Homo sapiens: one gene and its partners. The protein of the gene in region 2 interacts with the protein of the main gene of each other region in a biochemical or structural test. Each region holds a gene or a part of one and is shown on either strand. Other genes may lie near its edges.

The links.
Region 1: the proteins of NOTCH1 (region 2) and DDR1 form a complex in vitro, tested with the Homo sapiens proteins (one study listed by BioGRID).
Region 3: the proteins of NOTCH1 (region 2) and CASR form a complex in vitro, tested with the Homo sapiens proteins (one study listed by BioGRID).
Region 4: of the proteins of NOTCH1 (region 2) and NLK, one has a biochemical effect on the other in vitro, tested with the Homo sapiens proteins (one study listed by BioGRID).

What each region holds. Positions count from the first base shown.
Region 1 is NC_000006.12:30,893,588-30,897,587, reverse strand, and holds part of DDR1 (epithelial discoidin domain-containing receptor 1 isoform 2 precursor), read right to left. Parts: intron 3,083-4,000; coding exon 2,917-3,082; intron 2,185-2,916; coding exon 2,074-2,184; intron 968-2,073; coding exon 723-967; intron 575-722; coding exon 447-574; intron 228-446; coding exon of another isoform or gene 210-227; coding exon 1-209. UniProt on the Homo sapiens protein: Tyrosine kinase that functions as a cell surface receptor for fibrillar collagen and regulates cell attachment to the extracellular matrix, remodeling of the extracellular matrix, cell migration, differentiation, survival and cell proliferation.
Region 2 is NC_000009.12:136,534,986-136,540,348, forward strand, and holds part of NOTCH1 (neurogenic locus notch homolog protein 1 preproprotein), read right to left. Parts: intron 1-5,363. UniProt on the Homo sapiens protein: Functions as a receptor for membrane-bound ligands Jagged-1 (JAG1), Jagged-2 (JAG2) and Delta-1 (DLL1) to regulate cell-fate determination.
Region 3 is NC_000003.12:122,276,737-122,281,167, reverse strand, and holds part of CASR (extracellular calcium-sensing receptor isoform 2 precursor), read right to left. Parts: intron 1-4,431. UniProt on the Homo sapiens protein: G-protein-coupled receptor that senses changes in the extracellular concentration of calcium ions and plays a key role in maintaining calcium homeostasis.
Region 4 is NC_000017.11:28,191,746-28,196,881, forward strand, and holds the end of NLK (serine/threonine-protein kinase NLK), read left to right. Parts: intron 1-374; coding exon 375-468; intron 469-2,836; coding exon 2,837-2,891; 3' UTR 2,892-4,636; downstream 4,637-5,136. UniProt on the Homo sapiens protein: Serine/threonine-protein kinase that regulates a number of transcription factors with key roles in cell fate determination. Positive effector of the non-canonical Wnt signaling pathway, acting downstream of WNT5A, MAP3K7/TAK1 and HIPK2.

The DNA of each region.
Region 1 (4,000 bases), on a different chromosome or scaffold from region 2:
GCCCCTGCGCAGCCTGCCCGTCCCCAGGGGCCCCCTCGGCTGCCTTGTCCTCCAGCTGGTGGGCACTGAGGAACTGGTTGAGGTCGCCGTTCTCCATGTAGTCAGTAATCATGCAGAGGGGGTCGTCCTGCACACACACGCCCAGCAGCCGAATGATGTTTGGGTCCTTGAGCCTCGACATGATCTTCACCTCTTTCAGGAAATCATTCCTGGAGAACAAGGAGAAGCTGAAGAGGAATGCCGAGTGGGCGGCCTGCACCTTCCCCCGCGCCCCCACCCCCCTGCCCCACCTCAGGCAGACCAGGCGTCCCCACCCCCAGCGTACATGTAAATCCCCTCCCAGAGATGCCACCCCTCTGTTGGGCTCTGCCATTGTTCTCTCTAGATGGCTCCCCACTCTTCACGGCCTCCCCTCCCTTCTTCCAGATGCCATCCCTGGTCCTCACCTGGCATTCTTGGTGGCATCTGGCCGTAAGATCTTGACAGCTACCAGCAAAGGGTGTCCCTTACGCACATTAAGGGGGAAATCAAGACTAACCAGATCTTGAGGGCTGTCGACCTCACACAGGTGCACCTGGAGAAAGAAGTTCGTTTGCTAGGCGGTCACAGGGTCAAACGGATTAACACGGTTACAAATGACTAAGGTTCCTGGCTAGGGGGATGCGCAGGCATGGCATCAGAGCACACAATAGGGCCAGACACTGGGTAGGCACCCTCCTTACCTCCCCAAACTGGCCCTCGCCAAGCTTCTCCTTGAAGCGGAGTCGAGATCGAGGGAAATCCACTCTGGGGGGCCCATCCCCGACTGCCCCTGGGGGCAGTGCAGGCACAGCATAGGTGTTGCCCCCGGTGACGCCCTGCAGGGTAACAATGTCAGCCTCGGCATAATGGGGGACGCTGTTCTGGGGAGGTGGGGGCAGAAGCGGGGCGCCTGGCTTCTCAGGCTCCATATAGTCCCCACTGTAGGCTGCAGGGGTGAGGGGAAAGAAGACAGGACGAGGCATCAGGAACAGCCCAAGAGCTATAGTTCCCCACACCTCAGCCTCCCGGAGGGCCCTGTGTCTCCCGGTTGAGTGAGAGACTGGGTCTATGCTGTATCTTCCCAGTATTCCATGCGCCAACCTCAAACCAGGAAGACACTGGCATGGGACGAGAGTTAGCTATTCCAGAGCTTTTCAAGGCAATGAATATGGTTGAGCAAAACTGTCATAAAGTCTTACTCTTTTAGGGCCTCCCTAGGGTCTCTCAAGAGACTGTGAGATAAATCTTGGCTGGAAGAAGAATTCCTCCCCAGGAATTCTCCCGCCTCAGGATGGTCCCAGCATCCAGGCACCCTCCACCTTCCAAACCCTTGTCCCGTTCACCACAGCTCCCTCCCCTTCACTTAGCTGCTCTCCCGTGGCTTTCAGCCTGGCTCCCCCTGGGGCCAAGCCCTCCCAACCCTTTCAACCCAACACACCAAGCTCAACAACAAGCAGAGACAGAGGCACACAGAGAGGAGGGAGGGTAACAGCTGCTCACAGCCCCAACACAAGTTGTCTACAGACAGGAGAGGAAGCAGAGCTGTCCCCTCTTAGCCCTGGGGAAGGGGCCACAATGAGAAGGCAACACTGAGGAGAAGAGGGGCAGATGGAAAGGGTTGGGGCATGAGCCTTCACCTCTGGGACTGCAGAGAGAGGACACATGTGAGGGAAAGGGCAAGCGCCCGGGGTGAGAGCCCTCCTCCTCGCAGCTCTAGAGAGAGTGGAGAATAAAGGAGGAGTTACTATAGTCTGGGGCCACCACAGCAACCTCCTGTCTAGCTCTGGAGAGCTGAAGAGATGGCGTGGAAGAGGAGGAGGGAGAAGAGCTGGGGACCAGTAAGCTTTCTACTCCTCAGCTCAAGGGGGGGACCTTAAAAAAGAGCAAGCAGCAGCAGAGATGAGCTAAGGGCACAAGAGCTTCCTCCTTGGGAGCTCAGGAGAGCAGAATAGGCCACAGTGGGGAGAGGAGGAAGTGCAAGGTGTGAGGGCTTTTCCCTGCCCCAGTAGAGGTATGGGGAGCCTGGCGGAGCCCAGGGGCAGAGGGGCTTACCCTGGGTGTTGGTGGGTTTGGCCCAGGCGGGTGTGGGGGGGCCCGGGCCTCGAGGGGGACGGGCGTAAGTGGCCAGAAGGAGGCGGTAGGCTGGATTGGAGAGCAGCAACGCTGTCGGGAGAAGGAGGAGGGGAAACACGGGGAAGGGATGAGACTCAAGGCTAGACAGACAGGGAGACCTTGAATAGGGCAAGACCAGGGCTGATGGGATGATTGCATTAAGAGACAGACAGGATAAAACAAGGATCTGCAGAGTGACGGACGGCTGGCTGGATAATGAATGCATGGACAGATGGGACGTATGAATAGATGGATGGATGGTAAACAGATGTTTTGTTGGATGGATGGATAACAGATGGAAAGATGGATGTGTGAATATAGATGGATAGATGGATGATGGATATGGGTGGGTGGATGGATGGATGAATAGATTTATGAATATAGATAGAAAGACAGATGATGGAAGATTGATGGATGGATGCAAGGATGTATGACTATGGATGGAAGGATGGGTGATGGAGGATAGATGAAGGAACAAACATGGTGAGTCTAATACAAAGCAAAGGGGCCAGGGAGACACAATGAGAGGGTACAACAAAGATAGAGAGATGTCTGTGGGACACAGACAAGATAGCACCACGGGGGACTATGGGTAATACATGGGGAACTCTTGAGAGAGACTACATGGTAGGGACAAAGAGTGATATAGACAGTAACCAGGGGCACAGAAAGAAGAAAACAAGTGGAAACTGGGGAAGACAGGAAAAAAAGAGAATGGGAAAGGGATACAATAAGAAAACAGCAGAGAGGACAGAGGTGCGACTGGAACAAGGCAGGTCTTACCAGAGCCATTGGGGACACAGGGAGCGGAGTGGGGCGGATTCCCACGAGGCCGGGGCTCCTGGTACGGGGGTGGCTCTCTAGGACCTGGGCGGTTGTTGATGAGGATAGTGTCCCCAGGGACAGAGAGGTGAACCGTCAGCTCCTCTTCCAACACCCTCCGTTCAGCCTTGTCATAGGGATGGGAGGCATCACCCGTGTTGCTCAGCACACACGGCCTGGCCCTCTGCTGTGTCCATCCCTGCGTTCCCTCCCTCAGCCCTCACAAGAGCCCTACAGCTGTGGATACTATCAGCACCATCTTACAGGCAGAGAAAGTGAAGCTCAAGAGCATGGAGGTAACTTCCCTGTCCCACAATGAGATTCTAACCCTCATCTGCCCAGTCCATAACTATCAACCGTTTTTTTTTTGTTTGTTTGTTTTTTTGAGATGGAATTTTGCTCTTGTCGCCCAGGCTGAAGTGAAATGGCATGATCTCAGCTCACTGCAACCTTCGCCTCCCAGGTTCAAGAGATTCATGCCTCAGCCTCCTGAGTAGCTGGGATTACAGGCATCAGCCACCATGCCTGGCTAATTTTGTATTCTTAGTAGAGATGGGATTTCACCATGTTGGTCAGGCTGGTCTCGAACTCTTGACCTCAGGTGATCCTCCCGCCTCGGCCTCCCAAAGTGCTAGGATTACAGGCATGAGCCACCGTGTCCAGTCATCAACCTTAATGTACATTACTGCCACTGGACTCCAGCCGGAAGACGTGGCTTGGGGTGTGCCAGACGTCTTCCCTTTGCCCCTCCAACCCCACTCTCTGCCTGTCTCTACCCTGCTTCTGCCCCAAGGCTGACCAGTGTACACTGCACCAACAGGCCTGGTTTGGGTTAGCCAGAGAGGAGCCCAGCAGGAGTTTGGGGCAGAAAGTGAGGTCAGGGCATCTATTCTCCCAGGCCCTCCCTGAGGGGTAGATACGGGCCAGCTGCATCCCAGGACCAAAGTCTACTGCCCCTGTCAAGGTGCCCTCTCCACAGGCTCTCTCCTCTGGGTCGTGGTATTTGCTCCTCTCCGCTGAGCAGACCCAGAGCTGGGGAGCAGCC
Region 2 (5,363 bases):
CGTCCCCACAGAGCCCCCAGTCCCTCCCCACAGAGCCCCCGAGTCCGTCCCCACAGGCCCCACTGGACACCAGGCCCCAGACCTCCTTCCAGGAAATTGCAGGAACCACAGCAGGGCAGCCCCACAGACCTGAGGGAACCGCTGCCCCACCCCCGCCCCACAGAGCCCTGGTGTCTGGGCTGCAGCTGAGGCTGAGGGGCTGAGGACTCGGAGGATGGGATCTCCCGCCCAGCGGGTGCAGCCAGGTGGGAGGGGCCAGGCCCCCAGGGTTCACAAGGCCCCTTGGGGACCCACCCGAAGCCACCGCTTTGCATTAGGCAGGGCGTGCGGAGAGGGCCCTGTTTAACCGTGCGGGCTCAATCTGGAGTGTAGACGGCAGGACGCCCCCAGCCCTGGGCCCCTGAGCCTGTGAGTGGGGGGTTCAGAGGTGAGGCCTCTACAGAAGTCTCCCTCCCAGGGGCAATGGGTGCAGGGTAGGCGGGGAGCACTCAGGATCCCTCCCAGGGGCAATGGGTGCAGGGTGGGAGTGGGTGGAGGGGGGAGCACTCAGGATCCCTCCCGGGGCAATGGGTGCATGGTGGGTGGAGGGGGGAGCACTCAGGATCCCTCCCAGGGGCAATGGGTGCAGGGTGGGTGGAGAGGGGAGCACTCAGGATCCCTCCTGGGGCAATGGGTGCAGGGTGGGTCGGGGGGAGCACTCAGGATCCCTCCCAGGGGCAATGGGTGCAGGGTGGGAGTGGGTGGAGGGGGGAGCACTCAGGATCCCTCCCGGGGCAATGAGTGCAGGGTGGGTGGAGAGGGGAGCACTCAGGATCCCTCCCAGGGGCAATGGGTGCAGGGTGGGTGGAGGGGGGATCACTCAGGATCCCTCCCAGGGGCAATGGGTGCAGGGTGGGAGTGGGTGGAGGGGGGAGCACTCAGGATCCCTCCCGGGGCAATGAGTGCAGGGTGGGTGGAGAGGGGAGCACTCAGGATCCCTCCTGGGGCAATGGGTGCATGGTGGGTGGGGGGGAGCACTCAGGATCCCTCCCAGGAGCAACGGGTACAGGGTAGGGGGGCGCACTGAGGACACTGCTGGGGAGTTTCTCCTCCCAGAATTCCACAGGTCTCGGAGATACACTGAAAGCAACCCCAAAATGCTAGGACCGCCTATAACCGCCCTGCACCACCCCTGGGGCAACCAGGCACCCCGATGCTAACACGCACGCATCCTCCCGACAGGGAGAAGTCCCCCAGCTGCCTGCAGACAGGGCCTCGCTGTCAAGGGCCACTGGCTGGCCTGGTGCCCTGCAGGGGACATGGCGCTTCCCCGTCCCAAGGGCAACTTGGAGAGGACACCATCTGTGTCTCAGAGTGAGGGGCCAGGTTCCTAGCTCTCTCCTGTCACACGGGCCTGGATCTAGGCCAGGGCATAGCCAGTCACTCTAAGCTGACCCTGAGGGTCCAGGGGGAGAAGCAGCCTGGAGCCAATCACACAGAGCTCTGTCCAGGGAAGGGAAGGCCCCGGAGCAGGCAGACTGGGCGGGTGGGGGCTGAGATGCCTGCCCGCCCCATGGATGTGTCCAAAGCCTCACTGCCCCCCGCTGCCCCAGCCACCGCCGCTCCTTTGGTCTGGAGCTCCCTGCCGCTGACCCTGTCCCAGCCAGCGTGGAAGCTGCTCCGTGGTGGGCCTCACTTGAAAGCCACAGCAGGTGCACCCAGATGGGGTCCCACAGCACTGACTTTGCACACAGGAGGCCATGAAGGCTGCAGTGACTACCCCTAGCTTGTGGCCAAGCCCGTCCATCCTGTGGCCTGGTTCTTAAGGGGCATGCTCCTCCCCTGCCCAGGGGGGCCTGCATCTGCCGTGCCCACCCATACCCCAGGGTTCAGCATGTAGTAGATGCTCAATAAAGACCCTCTACTTTGCATTCTTACAGCACCAGGCGTGTGGACGCTCAGTGACCGCGGCCCCACTGTGTGCCTCCTGGGGGCTAAGGGATGCTGAACAGCTTGGCGGCTGGCATGAGTGAGGCCCAGGGACAGGTTGTGAGCCTGTCTCGGAGTCCTGAGCAGGACAGGGGCCGCGGGCACGCCAGTCCATCCTACAGGTTCACCTGGGAATATGCCAGGACTCCCTCTAGGGGGCTCTGTGGCTGTCGGGTGGCTGCACCGGCCCAGAGTGAGCGCCATCTCTTCCAGGAAGCCACCCCGGACGCCCTCCCAACACCTGCCTCCTCTGGACTGTCTGGGAGCTGGGATGCTGGGGTCCACCTCTGGCCAGTCCCTGATGCTTCTGGAGGCTAAAATGTAGTCCTCAGAAGAATGCAGTTCTAGTCCACGCGTGACATGGATGAACCTTAAACACATCACGCTCAGTGAAAGAAGCCAGGGGCAAAAGACCACCTATGGCACAATTCCATTCATAGGCAACGTCCAGAAGAGGCGAATTCAGAGGCAGAAAGCGGGTTAGTGGTTGCCAGGGGCTGGGGCAGTCAGGGCAGAGTGACAGTATTTGGGTACAGTTTCTGTTTTGTGCAGTGAGAAAGTCCCGGAACTAGATAGTGGTTGAATGAACTTGTGAATGGACTAGATGTCAAGCAACAGCATGCTTTAGTTCAAAAGTCACATTTTCAGCCTGGACAACATAGCAAGACCCCGCTTCTGCAAAAAAATTTAAAATTAGCTAGGCATGGTGGTGCACACCTGTGGTCCCAGCTACTCTGGAGGCGGAGGCAGGAGGATCGCTTGAGCCCAGGAGTTTGAGGCTGCAGTCAGCCGTGATCCCACCACTTCACTCCAGCCTGTGTGACAGGGTGAGACCCCATCTCAAAAAACAAAAAAGTGGCCATGCACAGTGGCTCACGCCTGTAATCCCAGCACTTTGAGAGGCCAAGGCAGGTGGATCACCTGAGGTTAGGAGTTTGAGACCAGCCTGACCAATATGGTGAAACCCTGCCCCTACTAAGAATACAAAAATTAGCTGGGAGTGGTGGTATGTGCCTGTAGTCCCAGCTACTCAGGAGCATCGCGTGAATCTGGGAGGCAGAGGTTACAGTGAGCCAAGACTGCGTCACTCTAATCCAGTCTGGGTGACAAAGCAAGACTCCATCTCAAAAAACAAACAAAAAAAGGCAAATTTTGTAATATGAATAAGTCATCACCCAGAATCCCTCCATATACATATCCATCCCCAAACCAGTCCTTAGCTCCCTTTGCTCCCAGGGAGCAGGGTGGGGTGGGGCAGGGCCACAAGGAGAACCCAACCAGGCAACTTTGGAAAAGGGCTTCCCTCCACCCTCCCACCCCTGCAGCCACTGCCCCTTCCCCAGCTGGGGCGACCACCGAGCCCAGCGCAGGCCTCGCCGCAGGGCCCACAGCCACCACCACGCCTTCAGCCCGCCCCAGGGTCCCGCTGGCTGTAGTTGGAAGGGGAATCACATACAGATGGGGAAACTGAGGCCCAGGGAGGGGACAGTGTGGGGAGCACAGCAAATCAGAGCCAGCCCTGCTTCACAGCCCCTCGGAGCTCCGGGCCCCACAGGAGAAAGCGCCAGCGCTGCCTGGGAAACTCGAGGCCGTCAAACGCAGCCCGGCCCACAGGTGTGATGCCCCAAAGCCAGCCGCTCGTTAAAGCTGCTGGTATTTCCTCCTCAGCCCGGGGAAAGATCCGGAAAGTTCTGGATATGCCTGCACATGAAGGTGAAAGCTGACGCCAGCCTGCCTCAGATCCCCACGCCCTCGCAGCCACAGCTTTCCCACCTGTGCGCTGGGGATGAAAACTGCACTGGCACACCTGGAGGGTGGGCGGCCGTCTGCCAGGGCTTTTACGAGGCTGGGTAACAGCGGCGTCCTGAGTGTGGAGCTGTCATCGCTGCATTATTGAGGAAGGCAAGCTAGACGCCCAATCGATTCTGCAAAGCCACATCCTTTCACTATTTATAGACGAGACATGAAACAGGAAAGGTCCCCTCCCCACAGCAAAAGGGTGCAGTCCCTCGGCCCGGCCTGGAACTGCCCAGTGGGCACCGGTGGCCGCTGCTGCCCATCACAGGTGCAGGGAATGAGGAATGAAGCCAGTCCCGGCTCCTGTGGGGTCTCCAGTTTGCCGCCCGCATCTGGGGGTCCCCGCACCCAGCTCTGCCCTGTGGAAGCACTTCCCCTGGTGCACTGTCTGCCCTGCCCTACCCTCTTCCTGCCAGGGTTGCTGTTTTCTTTCTCCCTCTCTCTTTTTCTATTATTATTCTTTTCAATGGAAAACATGTTGGCTGCTGTTCAGAGGCAGGGCCTGCCCCAAGGAGCCAGCTTCCTTCAGAGCACTCCAGGCTCCCACCCCAGTCTCCGCCCCAGGCCTTCCTGTTCCTGATGTCTCCCCAGTCTGAGTAGGTGAGACTTTCTATTTGACACTGTGTGGGGTTTTTTTTGTTGTTTTTTGTTTTTTTGAGACAGAGTCTCACTTTGTCACCCAGGCTGGAGTGCAGTGGCACGATCTCAGCTCACTGCAGCCTCCGTCTCCTGGGTTCAAAGGATCCTCCTGCCTCAGCTTCCCAAGTAGCTGGGATTACAGGCACACGCCACTGCGCCTGGGTAATTTTTGTATTTTTAGTAGAGACGGGGGTTTCGCCATGTTGGCCAGGCTGGTCTTGAACTCCTGACCTCAGGTGATCTGCCCACCTCGGATGCTGCATGTTTTTAAACATGTTTTTCTAACCCTGGCGCCCTTGAAGACCAGGTTCTGCATAAACAGGAGGTCCTGTCACAGGCCTTTCCGCTCAGCTCAGCATGAGGAGGAGAATCAACCTGTTCCTCCCCTGGCCACGCCCAAGACGAGGCAGGTGACTCAATGGAAAGAGCCAGACCGGGTGACAGGAGCTACCCCGTCCCTCCCCAGCCTCCCAGGCCGGCTGCAGGGCCAAGTCACTTCCCGCCTGAGCCTCCTTCCTCTTCTTTTAAGGGGAAGCCACGCCCCCAGTCCGCTTGTAGTCGGGAAATGACGGGGCAGCTCAGGCTGGCTGGGGCTGTGTTTAGGGACATTCGCTTGGGAGAAGGAGAGGGGCAGGGCTAGTAGGAATTCTGCCACTGCTGTGTGACCCTGGGGCTGATGGCGACTTCTCTGGGTCTCTTCTTCTCACTTATCGGTGCCTGATCCAGACAGCTTTACGGGGCTGCCGGGAGCTATGCCAGGCCACCACCGGGCCGGCACACCCCCAACATGTCCCACATGTGAGCTAGGTGCCTCTCTCACGCCTTGCTGGGAAGTGAACTCCACAGGAGCAGGGGCCATGTCTGCCCTGTCCCCACCGGGGGCCTGGCCTGGAGCAGAACGCAGCACACAGCAGGCGCTCAAACGTGTCTGTGAACTGGAGCCACCCTGGGAGATGGAC
Region 3 (4,431 bases), on a different chromosome or scaffold from region 2:
CCCTTCACCTTTTGTTGTGTGCTTCTGGTTAACTTCCAGGTTCTTCAGTGGTTTTTGTCCAGTTTTGTTCAATTTTATCATTGCTTCACCATTTCAAGAAGTCCTGCTTCTATCTCATTCTTTGCACCAGCTAATTGATTATTCATTCTAGGAATTTATTAGTCATTTACTATCTAACAATGTATATGTTTCAAAGACAAGAAATGTATCATAAGAATGAAGTCCGTTTTGCAACAGCATATGTATCTTAGAGGTAGAGAGCACTTCTCACTCATCTTTGTAACCCCAGGTACAAAGCCTGGAGTAATGCTTAATACATAGTAGGGCTTTTACTATTTCCATAATGTCTATTTAATGGGTCTCCCCTCTACCTACTACTTTGTAAGATGTCTTACAAACACAGAAAGCAGTAAAGTAGCTGTCGTTGTTTCTAGCAGAAATGACTGGCTTGACAAAGGAGTTAAAAAAAACTTGAACAGAAGATGATTGACATTATCTTCTAATGAATGAGGAATGGAAAGGCAGTAATGGACCTGATGATTGCCAAGACTCTCATGACCCAGGGAAGGGAAGGGGAGGGGAGGGAAAAGGACAACTCACATCATCATCTTCAACTATGGTGACAAGGTATCCTCAGAGATGTGCTCTCAGTCCTTGAGTTGCCAACCCATTTGATCACTCAATGAAAGCTAAAGGCCCTGTTTTCCAAACCCACACTAGGAATGCTTCTAAATTTTCCCCATTAAAGAATGATGGTTGCTTCCTCTCTTCCTATTTGAATACCCTTTATTTCTTTCTCTTGCCTGATTGCCCTGGCCAGAACTTCCAATATTATGTTGAATAAGAGTGGTGAGAGCGGGCATCCTTGTGCCAGTTTTCAAGGGGAATGCGTCCAGCTTTTGCCTTTTCAGTATGATATTGGCTGTGGGTTTGTCATAAATGGCTTTTATTATTTCGAGGTATGTTCCTTCAACACCTAGTTTATTTAGAGTTTTTAACATGAAGGGATGTTGAATTTTATCGAAGGCCTTTTCTGTGTCTATTGAGATAGTCATGTGGTTTTTGTTTTTAGTTCTGTTTATGTGATGAATTACGTTTTGCAGGAACAGAAAACCAAACACCCCATGTTCCCACTTATAAGTGGGAGCTGAACAATGGGAACACATGGACACAGGGTGGAGAACAACACTGGGGCCTGTTGGGAAAGGGTAGTGGGGTGGAGAGCATTAGGGAAAAGAGCTAGTGCATGCTGGGTTTAATACCCAGGTGATGGGTTGACAGGTGCAGCAAACTACCATGGCACACATTTACCTATGTAATAAACCTGCACATCCTGCACATGTACCCCAGAACTTAAAAGAAATACAATGAAAAAAGAATGATGGTTGCTGTATCCTTTATCAAGGTAAAGTGAGGTTCCCTTCTATTCCTAGATTAATGAAATTTTTGTTTTTAACCTGAGAGGTTAAAACCTGAGAGGTTAAAAATTTTTGTTTTTAACCTGAGAGGTGTTAAATGTTAATAGATACTTTTTCTGTGTCTACTGACATTGCAGAACTTTTATCTTTTATTCTGCTAATGTAATAAGCTACATTTATGAACTTTGTAAAGTTTGGCTATCATTACGTTCCTGTACATTCACCACTAACTCTACTAGCAGATGATGTTTATTTTATACATTGCTGGTCTGTTTGGTGATATTTTATTTAGGATTTGAGCATCTACGTATACAAACAATATTGTCCTATAATTGTCTTTGCTTGTATTGTTCTATCTGTTTTTGGTATCAAGATTATATTATCATCACAAAATAAATTTAGTAGCTTTCCTTCTTGGTTTCTGCTAGGCTGTGAGTGCCAAAAATCTCAAAATAATAACTCCCAACAAGACTGAACTGTATTTCTCTCTCATATAAATGTCTAGGGATGTGGTCTAGAGTGATATAGCACTCCATAATGTTGGACACCTAGACTCTTTCTACCTGGTGGTTCTGACATGTTTGTCTTTGCCTCATAGTCCTTGATAGTGGCATTTGGTTTCCAGGAGGCAAGATAGAGGAAGGGATGAAGAAGAGAGCAAAGGATACTTGCAAGCACTTTCTTAAAGAAGGTTCCCAGAAGCCATCCCACAACACTGCCACTTACATCCCATTCTCTAGGATTTAGTCATGGGGACGCACTTAGTAGAAATGAAGGCTGAAAAATGTCATCTTGAATCTGGGTAGTCATGTGTCTAGCTAAAATAGAGTTCTATTTTTAAAGAAAAAGAGGAGTATAAATAACGAGGGCCTATAGGAATGTCTGCCTTGCCTCTTTTTCTCTTCTTCTTAATGGTTAAGGAACAGGCTGAAGGTCACACAATGGCTTGACTGGAGAGCTGAGATTCGCGCTCAGGTCAGTCTTCAAAGTCTGTACTTTTCACTACACCAAACTCTGCTTTATACCAGTCAAGGCTTAGAAGAATGTCTCCATCTGGGTCTGCTTACTGCATCCTTCAGCAACCATGAGCTAAAGAGAAATCCTATCACCACAGGAGTGGGCTGAGGTAGCCACCGGAAAGATCCATTTTTCCAAAAAGCAGTCAAGTATCTCCAAGCCTCCTCAACAGTCTTATTAAAGATGCCTGTCCAATTCTGGCCAAGGAAGCTCATCTGAATTCCAAGACCCTAATTAAGGTGTCTCTTTTACTTCTTATTTGTTGTAGCAAAACAAGGAAAGAATTATTGGCAGCACAGTGTAGGGAATGGAGCACTGAGGTCTAAGTTAGGGCCCTTGGGGTCTAGTCTCAGCTTTTATACTGACCATCTGTTTGGCCTGAGAAGTCACCTTTGCATCCTAAAACCTCAGTGTCATCAACTTCAAATTGGAAGCTTGGATACAAGGATCTTTAAAGATCTATCTAGCTCTAAATTTAGTGCTACATTTGTAAGAAAATTGAGAACATCAGTTAAGTATAATGCCATATTAATACTTTGCATTTATATATTAGTAGTATGATTCAGTTTATCATACGCTTTTCATCCTTGATCTCATTTGATCTCAATAACAACTTTGTGAAATACATAGGGAAGTTACTAATATATAATTTATAGTTAAATATAGGTGGTATTTTTGTGGTCATTTCCACAACAGCACAGAAAATAATAGAGTAGATCCTAAGATTTGTTGAGTATCCATTGTGTGCTACGTTTGAGGTAATATTTCTATGGAAAAAAATTAGATTTAACTTATAACTGTGTCAACTATTCCAAGAACATAAGTGACTGAATTAATGAGAATTCCCTGTGTTATTCATCTATCAATGTTTAAGCCCATGATGTACATAGCCTGGGAGAGGACAGTTAGGGCTATGGAGAACTGTACAGGAGATAGCTCCCTGCTGCAGTGGAGAGACATGTGCCATTAGAGAATTCAATTCTATGCATTAATGGGGGTGAAAGATAAACTGGATGATCCAACAGGGGTAAACAGGTGGCAGTATAGCTGATCAATTTAGACTCCAGTCAGTGAAAATACGTGATAAATTAGACAAAGGTATAATTAGTGGACAGAGGAATATAACATCTGGAACCCCCAAATCTCCATCTGGAAAAGTCATGACATATTTATAATTAAGAACCCACCCTCTGGGGTGTAAGCTATTAAAAACGGCACACTGTGGATGAGATTCACTGTCTATGGGAGACCTTCCCAGTGGTAATCCATCTACATACTGGGTAACAGTGAAGTTGTAGCATCTCATCAGGAACCTGTCAACCTAAGAAGCATTTGATAAGAAGACGAAGCGAGTCTTTGGTTATGTTATAAAAAGTGGTCCAAGATGGCTGGGCATGGTGGCTCACGTCTGTCATCTGAGCACTCTGGGAGGCTGAGGAGGGTGGATCACCTGAGGTCAGGAGTTCGTGACCAGCCTGGCCAACATGGTGAAACCCCGTCTCTACTAAAAATACAACAATTAGCTGGGTGTGGTGGTGCGCCTGTAATTCCAGCTACTTGGGAGGGTGAGGTGGGAGAATTGCTTGAACCTGGGAGGCAGAGGCTTCAGCGAGCCGAGATTGTGCCACTGCACTCCAGCCTAGGCAACAGAGCCAGACCCCATCTCAAAAAAAAAAAAAAAAAAGAAAAGTGGTCCAAGATGCTCAAAGGTGATAATAAAAAAGGCAAATGCAAATAGAAATGTGGTGGGTCTTATCCAGGCTTCCTGGGAGAGTTAAGAGGATGCCCTGTCTAGGATCTGTGTTCTTACAGAGGACCTGGATTCTTAGCAGCCTGCTATATTCTAGGACACAAACATCATAGAATGGTCATCATTCCAGTGTATCACGTTTCTCTTCCTCAAGTGCAAATTGACTGAGGGGTGGGCTTCTGGTTATTAACAGGCTTCTAGCTGCAGTGATACTCAGACACACAAGCATCCTCCTCTTTGTTACAG
Region 4 (5,136 bases), on a different chromosome or scaffold from region 2:
GAAACTATACACCTAGATACCAACTGAGGTCTTTAAGTGATCTTCAAAAAGGCAATAATTGCCAGCAACTTAGAAGAGTTCACCCATAATGCCAAACCTGTGGAGTCTCTCTCAAATTTATAGGCCATTTTACTCTTCCCACTGATGGGGTTGCAGTCTGTGTAATGCCACCAGTAGGTTTCTTATATTTAGCAACAGCTGTCATTTTAGTTTTAGGAAGTTCAGCTGAATTCTGCTTGATAGATGATGTGTGTGTTTGATTTAACTAAACCAGTAGGCAGTGCTTTTCAGATGCTGGCTAGAGTTCGCTGAGAATTCACTGCTCCCGGGCTTGCAAATTGTCATGGATTGTATGATGTTTGTTTTCTCCACAGAAATTATTCATCAGTTCATTTTGGAACAGCAGAAAGGAAACAGAGTGCCTCTCTGCATCAACCCTCAGTCTGCTGCTTTTAAGAGCTTTATTAGGTAACTATATGTATGTAATTCAACATTCTTGTTAGAATTAAAAGGATGCCAGTGTTACTTCATTATTCAGCATATTTGTTTTTATTTAGATAACATAGATAAAAGGTGCAACAGAAAGTTTCTGTTATGAGGTTTGGCTTTAGTCAAAAGTGTATTAAAACTGTAAGCATCTGGGCTGGGCGCGGTAGCTCATGCCTGTAATCCCAGCACTTTGGGAAGCCAAGGCAGACAGATCACCTGAGGTCTGGAGTTCAAGACCAGCCTGACTAACATGGAGAAACCTTGTTTCTTCTAAAAATACAAAATTAGCCAGGCATGGTGGTGCATGCCTGTAACCCCAGCTACTTGGGAGGCTGAGGCAGGAGAATCACTTGAACCCGGGAGGCAGAGGTTGCGGTGAGCCGAGATCGCACCATTGCACTCCAGCCTAGGCAACAAGAGCGAAACTCCATCTCAAAAAAAAAAACAAAAAACTGTAAGCATCACATTTTACACTGGTGCCAGTTCACTGCGGTTGCTTTGGCAATTTTTTCCCCGGATGACCATTGTGCTGCCTCATCACATATATGGCAGTCCTGCTGCAGCATTAGTATGGTGGCCACCTGTCCTGGAGTTAGACGTGGTCATCTCAGTTCCCACTACCATTCTCACTCCCTAGTAATAACTGCAAGCAAGAAAATAATTTTTTTGTGTGTAGGTGGACTGCTGGTGTAGCCTATTTAGAGGAGAAGTCAAAAGGCATATGGTAGAGCTATGAACCTACATTGGAAGTTACCAGGCTTCATTCTCCTTGTCTGTCTGTCCTTTCCTTCTCTTGATTTCTTTTTCCTTAACTCCTTATATATTGATCAGGGTCTAATCGGGAGAAATAAACCACTTCCCTAGAATACAAACGGGGAAAATTCAGTAATAAGAACTGTTAACTAGGAAAGATGATCAACTGCTAAAAGGCATAAAAGAGGATTCTGAAGGCTGCTGAAGTAGCAAATGCAGAAAGCAGCCACTCCCTGTAGACTGAGGGAGAGTAAACAAGAAAGGAATTAAGAATTTAGAAGAGGTTCCTCATGTAAGGACCTCTTTGGAGAGGGTATGGCTGCCACAGGAACTGGAACACACAGCACGAGGGTGGTGCAGAAGAGGAAGTGTGCCAGAAGGTGTGGCCAGAACTGGTCCATCAAAGACTGCCTGCCAGGAGAGTTCGGGTGGACCAAAGCTGAGCCTTCCACATGACCAAAAACAGGCACAACAAACCAAGGAAGGGAGACTGCTTCCTGATGCTACAGCCTTGCAAATGCCCTTCCAGCACCCTCTGTTGACAAAAGCTAACATTAAGCTAGGTGGCAAAGGGGAACCATGAACAGGGTCTGGCTCCAGTATCACAAAGCAGGACAAAGGGTGGATTCGGATATGAGTGGTCACACAGTCTCTATCTTCCCCGCTGCCTTTCTCCTCTCCTTTTTCTCTCTTCCTGCTGCCCTTTCCCTTTAATCATATTAAAGTTGGTTGGATTTGTTGGACCACAGTCAAGATTTTATGCTTAAAATTTGCAAAATCAGGTGACTTTCATTTCTTCCATGTATTTTTCTATTGGAAGAAGGAATTAAGTTGCACTTTTACTTATCTGTGGTTTTAAATTACTTTGTTTTACTATTTTCCCCTAAGAGTCAGTGACCCAGTCAGTTAGGCAGTTTAGCAGCTTAGGTGCAAATGATCCTGGGCCTTGGGGAAACAAGGGGTTACACTTTTCCCTCTCAAGTTTATAATCTAATTAGCAATCTTAGACATAGGAAAAAGCCAATAACAGATCTAGATCACCAATGCTAAATGATTACCTATACTTCTCCATTAATACTTGATAAAAGAATGCTTATAAGGCCCATTCAAAATAGGCCACTGTATTTTGAGAGGCTACTTTTAAATGGATGATTCTACATCCCTTAAGGTTATTTTCCTGATTGATTATTGAAATTATTACTTGTAATACCTACATTTACTTTACACTTTGAAGTAGGCACTGTGGAAAATACTTCACATCTATTATCATTTATTCATCCCAGTATCCTATGAGGTAAACAGCATTATTTCTTTCCAAATGAGAAGAGATTAAGGCACTTGCTCAGGGCCATACAACTAGTAAATGACATGTGGTTTTCAAGCCTACATATTAGCCACTATACCAGATTGCCTCTCCATAGATAACAGGTCCATAAACAAGCAACTTAGAATAAATTCAACTTCAAAGAAACAAATAAAAATCCAGAAGTGGAATTAATTTTTTCAGAGGAAGAGAGGAAAACAGGAAGTAGTGAATTACCCTTTTGTCCATTGTGACATTACAACTAATTTCTCCATCTCTGTTTTCTTCCAGTTCCACTGTTGCTCAGCCATCTGAGATGCCCCCATCTCCTCTGGTGTGGGAGTGATGGTGGAAGATAATGTACTACTGAAGATGTAATGTAGCTTTCCACTGGAGTCTGGGATTTGCAATTCTGGAGGTTAATCATGCTTGTACTGTAATTTTACTAATGAAGTTTTAAATTAACAACCACTACTTGTATGATATGAATAATATTTAGAAATGTTACTAGACTTTTAATCTTGTAAAGTGGTTGTGCTTTTAGAAGAAAAATATTTTACCCAGAGTTGCACATGTTTTATGAATTTAGTGCAGCTGTTATGGCTCACCTCAGAACAAAAGAGAATTGAACCAAATTTGGGAGTTTGGGGTTTTATGTTTTGTTTTTCTTTTCTAAAATGAAGTGAGATTGTTCACACACACACACACACACACACACACACACAAACACAAAGGACAGTCATACATTTTGATATTTGAGCCATTCCTAAAGATTTGGGGTTTTCTAAAACTAAAGAATCTAGGAACCTTGCCTGCGACCAATCATGGAGCCACGTGAGCTGATCGTGGCTGCACCTGGGGGGAGGGTAGGGAGGAGGGGCATGCCACCTAATGATCAAGCCCTATAATTAGCTTCTCATTAGAGCCGTGATGGTGATGTGTGCTGTCTAAAATCCAATGTTGTGGGTAGAGAGAATGAGTTTGTGACTAGGAGAGACTAAACTTTTGTTTTCCTTACCCAGTATAAATATATATATATATATTTAATCTATTTTTATTAGAAGTTTTTCTGCTCTTTCTTACATAAAAGAACCCCAAGCATGCATCTTTCATGTGTGTAAATAATTCATTTCTGGGCTAATTTCAAAAGAATCCCAATATTGCTGTATAGAAAGAGAACTAGCTTGCACATTTTAGGTCTGTGAAATTTTGTGAGACTTTTCCTGCACTGGACAGTAAAAAAATAATAAAAGACAAAAACAAATTTAAAAAAAAATTTAAGCCACAAAAAAAGGCACATAGGGAATTATGTCAAATGTGTTTGTGTCCTTAGGCAAAGCTGTGGGAGTCTTGAAATGTCACAGTAGTAAATAACTTATTACTTTTTGACAAGTTCTTTTTTTCTGTTGGAACACTGAATTCTTCTGTGCATATGTACATATGAATACAAATCGAAGGCCTCTACCTCCTGGAGTTATACAACTTGGCTTGTTTACCTCCACATGCTGATGATGACTATTTTTTTTTTTTGAGTTCAGTGTGGAGACTTGAAACTTGAATGTCCCTTCCAACTTTTATATTAAAAATAAAAAGACAAGAAAATTGAAGATCATTTTTCACCTGTACAAGGAATACTAATGGATCGTCTTAAAATTGGTCTAGGAAAAAACCTTGGTGTGTGTTATGGACAATTAACTGTTAAAGTTATTGTAAGTTATCTGTATTTAGCAGAGTATTTTCAACTTGAGTGATCTGAGCTGAATTTGAAGACTATTAATAAGTTATGTTTGGAAGTTTTAACTTCAATGAAGTAATTATTTGCTGTGAAAGAAACAAACATTGAATTACTAAACAAAGATGGTGCAATATCTTTGTTTTTTTTTTATGAGGCTCCTGAGAATCAACCCAACTGAAGCATTTCAATTCACTTGAATGAGAAACGTGTTTAGTATCAAAAGAGCCCAAGAAGACACTGGTGTGAAAGGTACAATCTCAGAGGTTGGTCAATTACCGTGGCACACTTTCTGGTCACTTTGTACAATGTAGATTTGAAGTACAGTGGTGAAAACATTAAATGTGACATTTGAAAAAGATGTGTCATCTGTTTTATTTCAGTTTCTTTCCTTTGTTTTCTCTTCAGTACAGCTCGTATCCTGACTTTGCAAAGTTTTGAGACACTTCCTATTTATATTTCCACTTTGATCTTTGAGGAAATTGGTTGTTTTTAAAAATCTTCTCAAAAACTTTAGATTGACAAAAACATATTGAAAATTTAGTTAAATCAATATCAAAGATGTGATTTAAATATACACAATAGAGAAGTCTTTTTAGACCTTGGAGTCTCTAATCCAGTGGTTTTCAAACTTTTTTTTCTTTGAAGCAATATCTTGGAGTCCAATATATTAAATACATAAAAGTAGATTGCTCTGTATGAAGCAGACTGGTAAAGGGACTTGACACCTCCCTCCTCTTCACTTCTGCCTCCTGCCTCTAGCAGCCCAAAGGTACTTTCAGCTAAGGAAGAAGTCCCAGCCCAGTGGTGGTGTAATCAAGGCCTGAAACCAGACTGCCTGACTTCAAAATACTTTCCC